Homo sapiens: one gene and its partners. The protein of the gene in region 3 interacts with the protein of the main gene of each other region in a pairwise test. Each region holds a gene or a part of one and is shown on either strand. Other genes may lie near its edges. The genes, in order: SSX4, ZNF440 and PAX9.

Region 1 (3,743 bases), on a different chromosome or scaffold from region 3:
TCACATTCCCCAACAACCCCAATTCTCCGTGATGAGCTTGGAAGAGAGTTTGAAAGAGTGATCCCTCATCCAGCACACAGAGAGCTTTCCCACTTCTCAGTGAGCAGAGATAACATAGGGTGAAAAAAAGACAAGTTTCGCGTAGAGATCTTTGTGCATTTCAGGAATATAAAGGGGACATATGTGTTTACTTGCTCTTCTGCTCTGAGAACACAGTTACAAGACAAGGTCAGAATGTCCAGACTGTCTCCCATAGACCTATTACTTCCCAACTAAACAGGCCAGATTCTACGATCTCCCACAGTCACTATAAGAGGTCTGAAAATCCAGTGCTTGAGTATCTGCCAAGTTTTTGACATTAAATGAGTGCCAAATATTTATACTGAAAATATTTCAGAGCCACTGGACTAAATCATCGATGGTTCATCACACAGTTAACAGCTTAATTGACATACCATAAGATTCACCCATTTGAAGTGTACAGTGATTTTTAGTTGTTGCACATCTTGAGTGATTACAGTTTAGATTCCCAACCAATCAATTTAACTATTTGGGAAAAAGTAAAAGATATGTAATGGAAAAAGATGAGACTGTGATGGGGTTTAATACCCATGTGATAAACCACGAGATGGAAAATTCTGAATTGATGCCACAGATAAATGCACCAACCATGACTAAACATAATTCAGAAGCAAATCTCAAATAACTCCTCAACAATGAGTGGACTCACAACCTCTGCTGCAGAATGCCCTCATGCGACAGAAGTCTCTCTAGAGTTTGGAAATCTTTACCAACAAAGAAAAATTCTGATGTATTCTCTTTCAGTTGAACGTCCTCAGATGACTTTCGGCAGCCTCCAGAGAATCTTCCCGAAGGTGAGTGTCTCTCAAATCTAAAGGACCAGAGAACGTTTGTCCCTGCACGGATGCGAACACTGATAAGAGTGGGAGAATATCAAACATGCCCTCACTGCCTCCTTCTCCCCATGTCTATCACAACAACTTATGTGGCACCGACGGCTTGCTAATATTAACAGTTGTGATCCTTAATACTTCTTTGGTTTTCATAGTGATGCCAGATTACTATTTTAAGCAGTTCACATGGGTTAATTTATTTAATCCTTAAGAAGACCTCTATGACGATGTTTCTATTACTATCTCCAAATACTATCGAGCCACACACTTCAATTGTCACCCATATAAAAGACATGTAACTTGGTGCAAATCTTCTAAGTTCTCTGAGATCCAGACTCCTGGTCCATGAAATGGAAGTAAAGAATCATAGTTCATGTTTTAGATCGTAGTTATCAGCAACATAATAATAAAATGAGGCTATCGGGGTACAGAGATGTTAAAGAATTTTCCTGAGGCACAGTGGCAGTGGTAGTCTAATCCAGAGCTCCAAGCCATTTAAAGCTCATTCACGTTTGCATTTGTTTATGAAGTTCAGATGTTGCTCACTAGGGCTTCACCCCATAGGGCCTCCTGGTGCTTCCATTGAGACACCCACTCTCGCAACAGGAAGGACCAGCTGGCCTCTGCTCTGTTACCGGGGCCACTCACATGGCTTAGGAATCGCTTTGACTGTTGGCCCCTCCCTACTGTGAGCTCCTTGATGGCCTTGTGTGCACCTGGGGCATCCGGGAAGCCCCCGTCCCAGCCCAGGGGATCCCTCGAAGGCCCCTGAATGAGTGATCCCACAACTGCAGATCCAACTCTGGTTTGGAGGGTAAAGGGATCTGGGAGTTGGGTTGCCAGTGTGGAGACCAAATTCAAAGAAGGATCATGAAAAGTATTAGTTTTTTATTATTACTACATTTAAAGAGTGTTTACAAGCTCAGAGAGCACTTTCTTGTAGCCTATTTTACATGTACTGTTGACTATTTCGTAAGTGAGGAAGCTGAATAAAAAGTAGCTTAAGGGCTGGGCGCAGTGTCTCACGACTGTAATCCCAGCACTTTGGGAGGCTGAGGTGGGTGGATCACGAGGTGAAGAGATGGAGACCATCCTGCCCAACATGGTGAAACTTTGTCTCTACTAAAAATAGAAAACTTAACGGTGCGTGTTAGAGCCTACCTGTAGTCCCAGCTACTCTGGAGGCTGAGGCAGGAGAATGGTTGAACCTGGGAGATGGAGGTTACAGTGAGCTGAGATCGCGCCACTGCACTCAAGCCTGGCAACAGAGCAAGACTCCGTGTCAAAAAAAAAAAAAAAAAAGGAAAAAGAAGTAGCTTAAGGTCGTTGGTCAGTGACACATCCCAATGCAACCAGAGTTGGTATGGGTACCACCTCACTTAATTCCACATTCAATGTTGGCGCCTCGGTAGGGTAGTATGCCATGTCTGGTACTGCTTTCTTTGCTGCCTAGTTTAATTTCAGCAAACCATTTCTTTACCTCTCCTGTCCCTGTATTCATCTCCCCACACCATCTTTCCCAGCAGTGTTTTATCGCCTCTCTATGTTTTTACATTTACTCTCCCAGCAGCTGTCTACAAGCTTATATGGGATCCCTTGTATTTTATAGAAGCTCTTTCTTTTCTAGACCTTGTGAATTCTTAGAATGCTATTCTCCAAATCTTCTGTATACCAAACTCTCAATTAAATGGAGATTTTTGCTGTTTGCAAGAATGTGAGTCTTAAAAGAGTGTGAAGATAAGCATTCTAGCCCTGGAAAGCCCATTCGTTTAGGCCATTCCTTTCCCTTCTAACCTCCCAGGTTTCTCCTAATTTAGGCCTGTGTAACTCTCCCAGTCTTGTTGAGAGCATTGAATAAGCTAATGCACGTGAAGACCCTTTGTAAGCTCTAAAGCACTGTAGAAATGTCACTGATACTGTTTATCTGCGACCTTCACATTGTAAAGATCATGCCCAAGAAGCCAGCAGAGGAAGAAAATGGTTTGAAGGAAGTGCCAGAGGCATCTGGCCCACAAAATGATGGGAAACAGCTGTGCCCCCCGGGAAATCCAAGTACCTTGGAGAAGATTAACAAGACATCTGGTAAGAGGAAAGAATTCGGGAACAACCCCTCTGGCTTCCCTGGCTGTGTTCAGGTGCGTGGACTGGGTGTGTGGCATGGACCCCAGACAAGCCAGGGTCCAGGCTGGGCTGAGGAGCTCGCCTAGCTCCAGATGAGATGTTAGACATGACTTCCAGAGACACAGACTGGAGTTGTCATCCATATAAAAAAAACCACGTGACGTGGGGAAAGTCTTCCAAATTTCCTCAGCTCCAGGTTCCTAGTCCATAAGATGGAAATAAAGAATCATAGTTCATAAATTGTTTGGAGACATTAAATGTAATCTAGAAGGCCTGATGACATGAAAGGTGCTCAAGCAATTCTATCTGTGATAACCTGGGATCATATCTTACTCAGCTCAATGCCTGTTACCCAATACAGGTGTGCTTCAGAGATATTGCAGGTTCGGTTCCAGACCACTGCAATAAAGTGAGTCACACACATTTTTTTTTTGTCTTGCAGTGCATAAAAACATTACATTTACATTATACTGCAGTCTACTAAGTGTGCAATAGCATTAAGTCTGAAAATGCACATACCTTTATTTTAAAATAATTCATCGATAAAAAATGCTAACAATCTTCTGAGCCTTCAGTGAGTCACACTCTTTTTGCTGGTGGAGGGTCTTGCCTCGGTGTTGATGGCTGCTGGCTGATCAAGGTGGTGGTTGCTGAAGATTGGAGTGGCTGTGGCAGTTTCTTAAAAGATGACAACAATGAAATTTGCCA
Region 2 (2,222 bases), on a different chromosome or scaffold from region 3:
AGGCTGTTGACAAGTTAACCTCAGCAGCACATTATCAGAGAAAGTTAGCCTCAGCAGCACATTATCAGCAGCACATTATCAGAGAAATATAAGACAGGCTTGTATTTAGACAATTTACACAAATTTATTAGCCTCCTATGACTCAGTAAAGCAATTTGAAAAAATATAGCTTTATAAGGCATAAACAAATTTATATGTTTTAACTAAGGTACTTTCTGGTAAACAGTGCCTGTACATTTTAGGAAATATTTTAGTCTTTAGAGAATAAGTAAGGCAAAAACAGGTCCAGGAGTTTACAGATGCCCTCCCCTCACCACAAGGCCAAGTCTTTTTTTTTTTTTTTTTTTTTTTGAGATGGAGTCTTGCTCTGTCGTCCAGGTTGGAGTGCAATGGCGCGATCTTGGCTCACTGCAAGCTCCACCTCACAGGTTCACACCATTCTCCTGCCTCAGCCTCCCAAGTAGCTGGGACTGCAGGAGCCTGAGACCACGCCTCACTAATTTTTTGTATTTTTTAGTAGAGACTGGGTTTCACTGTGTTGGCCAGGATGGTCTCCATTTCCTGACCTAGTGATCCGCCCGCCTCGGCCTCCCAAAGTGCTGGGATTATAGGCGTGAGCCACCGCACTCGGCCCTAAGGCCAAGTCTTTTTTTGTGTTTTTTAAGACAGAGTTTCACTCTTGTTGCCCAGGCTGGAGTACAATGGTGCAACCTCGGCTCACTGCAACCTCTGCTTCCTATATTCAAGCAATTCTCCTATGTCAGCCTCCTGAATAGCTAGGATTACAGGAGCATGCCACCACGCCCTGCTAACTTTTGTATTTTTAGTAGAGACGGGGTTTGATCATATTGGTCAGAATGGTCTCTAACTCCTGACCTCGGCCTCCCAAAGTGCTGGGATTACAGGCGTGAGCCACCATGCCCAGCCAAGGCCAAGTCTTTTATTGTTGGAGAGACACGTGTCACATACCAGGCATATGAGACGATGCTCCTCAGTGACCATGATGAATCAGGACAAAAACAAGGGCATTTTGTAACTATATTTTTAAATGTGATAGAGGAAAACGTATTTCAAATCATAAACATGACCAAAATTTTTCTCTTCTTACTAATGTGACTTGTAATTCTCATACATCTCACAGTCATTTATGGCTTTTGGTCATATTTATCACTATGGTATATTACACCCTTGCTGACAGCAGGTATGGCACTGCTGGTTTTGGGGAAGAAGGCACTCAGAGGTGCATGAGATAACTATTGGTATTATGACTGAATGAAAAATTAGGGTTGCAGCTGGGCATGATGGTTCATGTCTGTAATCCCAGCATTTTGGGAGGCCGAGGTGGGTAAATCATGAGGTCTGGAGTTTGAGACCAGCCTAGCCAATATGGTGAAACCCCGTCTCTACTAAAAAATACAAAAAATTAGCCTGGCATGGTGGCGCATGCCTGTAGTCCCAGCTACTCAGGAGACTGAGGCAGGAGAATTGCTTGAACCCTGGAGGCAGAGGTTGCAGTGACCTGAGATCATGCCACTGCACTCCAGCCTGGGTGACAGAGTGAGATTCTTTCTGGGGGAAAAAAAAAAAGAAAGAAAAATTAAGGTTGAGATAAAAATGTAAGTACAGAAGCATGAAAAGTAAAATTTTCGAATAAAAAGATGTCTGGCATTTTATCCACATGGTTATACTGACTCACAATGTCCAAATAATAACAATTTAACAGTATAAGGCTGATCTAATACATGACACCAATGGGATATTATAGCTTCTTATTTAAAAAGAATATCATTTGTTAGTATACAGTTATTATAAACAGTTAATTGTTTACATTCATTATCTGTATTCAAAGAATCTTGTCAGGTCTGAACGCTTTCCCATACTGCTTACATTCATAGGGTTTTTCTCCAGTGTGAGTCCTTCCATGCATTTGAAGGTGCGAGGCTGATCTGAAGGCTTTCCCACATTGCTTATATTCATAGGGCTTCTCTCCAGTGTGAGTCCTTTCATGATATTGAAGGGAACTAGAAGAAATGAAGGCTTTCCCACTTGGCATACACTCATAGGGTTTCTCTCCCATGTGAGTCCTTTCATGATATTGAAAAGAAGTGGAAGAAATAAAGGCTTTTGCACATTGCTTACATTGATAGGGTTTCTCCCTAGTGTGTTCTTTCATGATATTGAAAAGAACTGGAAGAAGTGAAAGCTTTGCCACATTGCTTGCA
Region 3 (3,743 bases):
AGCCCTCTGCCAATACAGTTCCTCAACATATTCACCAAAGTTACTTTTAAAAAATTGGTAAATCTGTATTTTGAACATTTGGAACAAACGAAATTAAAACTTGTACTTTCATTCTTCTTGTGATAACCTTAACTAGAAGAACTACATTGCATCTTATATATTTTTTTCTAGACTATTTCCGTTAATGTCAGTGTGATGAAGTTGGTCTTTTCCTAAAAGTATTAAAACAAAGCAGTAACTTACTTTTTCTAGGGTATGCAATTTAGTCTATTTTGCTTTGTATTAGTAAATCTCCTTCTCAAATTTAGGTAGAAGATAGTTTGCTATAGAGAGCACCCTTGCACAGTTCTTTCAGGGGAAAGAATTCTCATGCCTTTCATGGAAGATCCACATGAGAAAGGAGTTGATGGATTGAAGTCTTATTTATGGAATCTTTAGGTAAAGTCATTTTCAAAAATGAGATTTCCATTACATGCCCATTGCTGGGGTTTCATTTGGAAAATTTGTTTACTCTTCCCTGGGGATTCCGTATGTTGGTTGATTTATAAATCATATTTACAATCCAATTAAATAGAGTAATTTAGCATGTTTGCTCCCACTATATTTATAGTGTAGATTTGGTAGTCTCTACTCAGCCTAACTAGCTTTTCAGATTAATTACATGCCCTTCACTGAAAACATTAAACCGATTTGGGACGTTTAAGTCATGTACTCTTTTACTGGAAAGAATAAACAAACATCAATGCTACCTGTAGTTGTTTTCCTTTGCGGTGGAAAATTTTACTTTTTCAGTGATTGCTTCATAAATAACAATTACTTGACCCAGTAGAGATTTATATCTTTTACTAATGTTATGTGTCAAAATTAATAGTGAGAAAATTGATGTGTTTATTGAGTCACTAAAATGAATAAATAATGAAGGTGGCAGGAGGCAGGTAAATTTTAAAGCACATTTACTTGCTCCTTTTTTTTCTAAATTTATAAATCTGAGCTTCAAAAGTAAAAAGTAAAATTAAGACAAAACTCTCCAGACCCCCAAGCTAGGGTCATAATTTAACCTGAGAGAAAACTAAGGGCTATTTTTATACTGTTTAAGTTTAAAGATTTATGTTTGTTTTTTTTTTTAAGCAAACGTTTTAGCCTCTCCTTGCCTTTTTCTTTTTTCTTTCTTTCTTTCTTCCTTTTTTTTTTTTTTTTTTTTTTTTTTTTTTGAGATGAAGTCTCACTCTTGTTGCCCAGGCTGGAGTGCAATGATGCGATCTCGGCTCACTGCAACTTCCGACTCCCGGGTTCAAGCAATTTTCCTGCCTCAGACTCCCAAGTAGCTGGGATTACAGGCACCTGCCACCACACCCGGCTAATTTTTGCGTTTTTAGTAGAGACGGGGTTTCACTATGTTGGCCAGGCTGGTCTTGAACTCCTGACCTCAGGCAATCCGCCCGCCTCAGCCTGCCAAAGTGCTGGGATTACAGGCGTGAGCCACCGTGCCCGGCCGCCTTTTTCTATGAGATGAAATCAACCATCTCCGAGCTTCTCTTCCTACCCTGTCTTTCTGCAGTACAAAGGGATTGCATCACTAAAATGATACTAAATAAATATTGTGGATTTAAGAGAACTTTGAAATATTTAGTACTAAGAATAATGACATAAAGCAAGTTTGTGCATTAAGTATGAGAAGTTGGACAAACATGGAAAAATTTGCTCATTTTTTTACACTTGATAAATGAATGTAATCATGGAATAAATAAGGCACTAGAAGTTAATACAGGCCTAAATCCAATGTCCTGCCTGCCCCTAAATTCCAGGAACATTATCTAAGATAAAAGTTCAATGCAGCATGTCTCTGAGGGCCATCTTCCAAGTGGGTCCATGTAAGGGGACCATAGACATTGCAACAAAACAACTGAAGAGTCCAAGTAAATGGGGCAGATCAATGAGCAAGAGTTCCAAGGGCAAAGGTGTAAGAAAAGGGAAGATGACTAAGCAAGGATTTCAGAGAGAACTGTAATTTTGAATGATAGATAAAATACAAAGAAAAAAGAATGGGTAGGAAAAATTTAGCTGTGATGAAAAATAGAACTCGCCAACAGTTCTGTTCTGCTAACTAGAACATTGTTTCTGCCATGTATAATATTAAATTTTTTAACTTTATGTCCCTATATGATGTTGGCCAAAGATTTTTATTATTTTAGAAGTAATTTTAATGTTAGCATTCTTATTTCATTATTCTTAGTTCACATTGGCATCAGTAGTATAAAACATTAGTCAATGCTGGAAATGAAAATATTAGTTAACACCACATACAGATGTGAACACCTTTCCATAACTGAATTGGATTTATTTCTTTCCAAACTCATTTATCATAGATTATTGGGACAATTCTAAATAAAAATGATTAAAACTATAATCTCTATGCAAAACTAGATTTTTTCCCCTGTAATTTGATAGTTCTCTATCTTGATACCCATCTCCTGAGAGCCTTAAAGTGTGTCTCCTTTGAGACATAATCAGCCATTCTCAAAAAGTGGAAGAAACTATTCTTTTTTTAGAAGGGATCTGACAATGAGAATCATGTTCTAGGAGAGAAAAGAATTTGTTACCAGATGTTATCTCAAAAGATGCACTAGTTTTAAATTAAATTGCATCTATCTTTTAAGTGTTCAGGAAAAACAGTATGATATGCTACAGAGGACCCTGCATTGGGCAGGGGTGATAAATTTTTTTAACACATGGCCACTGGCTTGCCAATTGGTTGAGGGTACATGGCTAAACCTCTTAATCTATATCCTTGTATAAAAAGAGGATAAGATTTCATTTGTATTCAACAGTTATGTGCGGTAGTTTCTTGATTTAAAAAATGCAGCAGCATCATTCTCTGGGACCCTTAAAATACACTTTAATTTCAGTTGAACATTGTGTTGTATTTGTGACACACTATCTTGTAATTATGATAAACTCAATCATTTATAATGAACTATATAATTCATTAATACTCATTACTCAGTAAAATATGTTGGATATTTCTTGGTGCCTGGGACATAGGACACACTTAAGAAACTTTAGCTTCCTTTCTCTTTCCCTATTTTCAAAGAACCAACATTGAAAAACACAACATGAGGTGTTTGTTCTTACAGAGCATAGACACAAGGCTAACCCCTCTAATATTTTTCTTTTTTTGTCAGAAATGCATGAGTAATGTTGTCATACCCACGTATGTATTCTATTCCATGTACATATTCATTTACTCTGCATTGAGAAAATAGTTTTTGAGACCGCACCACTGCATTCTCATAGATGTAGAAGTGAAAACAATAGCCCAAATAAATTAAATTAGAAAGTAATTCCTGTGTTGCAATTGAACGGGAAAAAGTACCTAGCTAACATACATCTGATTAACTTAATTCTAAGGATTAAATCAATTTTCCTCATAAAATTCTAGTATTTACATCGTATTTTCACTAGGAAATATATTGAAATGGTAGTTCATTCATGTAACTATCAGGACACAGCATCTACACTTTATTTCTAAAGAGTATAAAAATTGAGGGGAAAAAATTAGACTACTTGAAGAAGGATGCCCAGTGTTCATGCCAGAATCAGGATTAAAAATCAGGGTGTTTTTAGTGTTGTTAATAGTAACGATACCAACAATAATTCACTGGATGCCAAGACAGCACTGGTTTCTCGGCAGGCTCGCCTGCCGGGACTGCTGCATTGTGTTTGCAAACAAAGATTTTAATTTC

The links.
Region 1: the proteins of PAX9 (region 3) and SSX4 interact in a two-hybrid assay, tested with the Homo sapiens proteins (one large-scale study listed by BioGRID).
Region 2: the proteins of PAX9 (region 3) and ZNF440 interact in a two-hybrid assay, tested with the Homo sapiens proteins (one large-scale study listed by BioGRID and IntAct).

The regions. Positions count from the first base shown.
Region 1 is NC_000023.11:48,386,486-48,390,228, forward strand, and holds part of SSX4 (protein SSX4), read left to right. Parts: intron 1-825; coding exon 826-875; intron 876-2,860; coding exon 2,861-2,996; intron 2,997-3,743. UniProt on the Homo sapiens protein: Could act as a modulator of transcription.
Region 2 is NC_000019.10:11,833,495-11,835,716, reverse strand, and holds the end of ZNF440 (zinc finger protein 440), read right to left. Parts: 3' UTR 501-2,222; downstream 1-500. UniProt on the Homo sapiens protein: May be involved in transcriptional regulation.
Region 3 is NC_000014.9:36,671,672-36,675,414, forward strand, and holds part of PAX9 (paired box protein Pax-9), read left to right. Parts: intron 1-3,743. UniProt on the Homo sapiens protein: Transcription factor required for normal development of thymus, parathyroid glands, ultimobranchial bodies, teeth, skeletal elements of skull and larynx as well as distal limbs.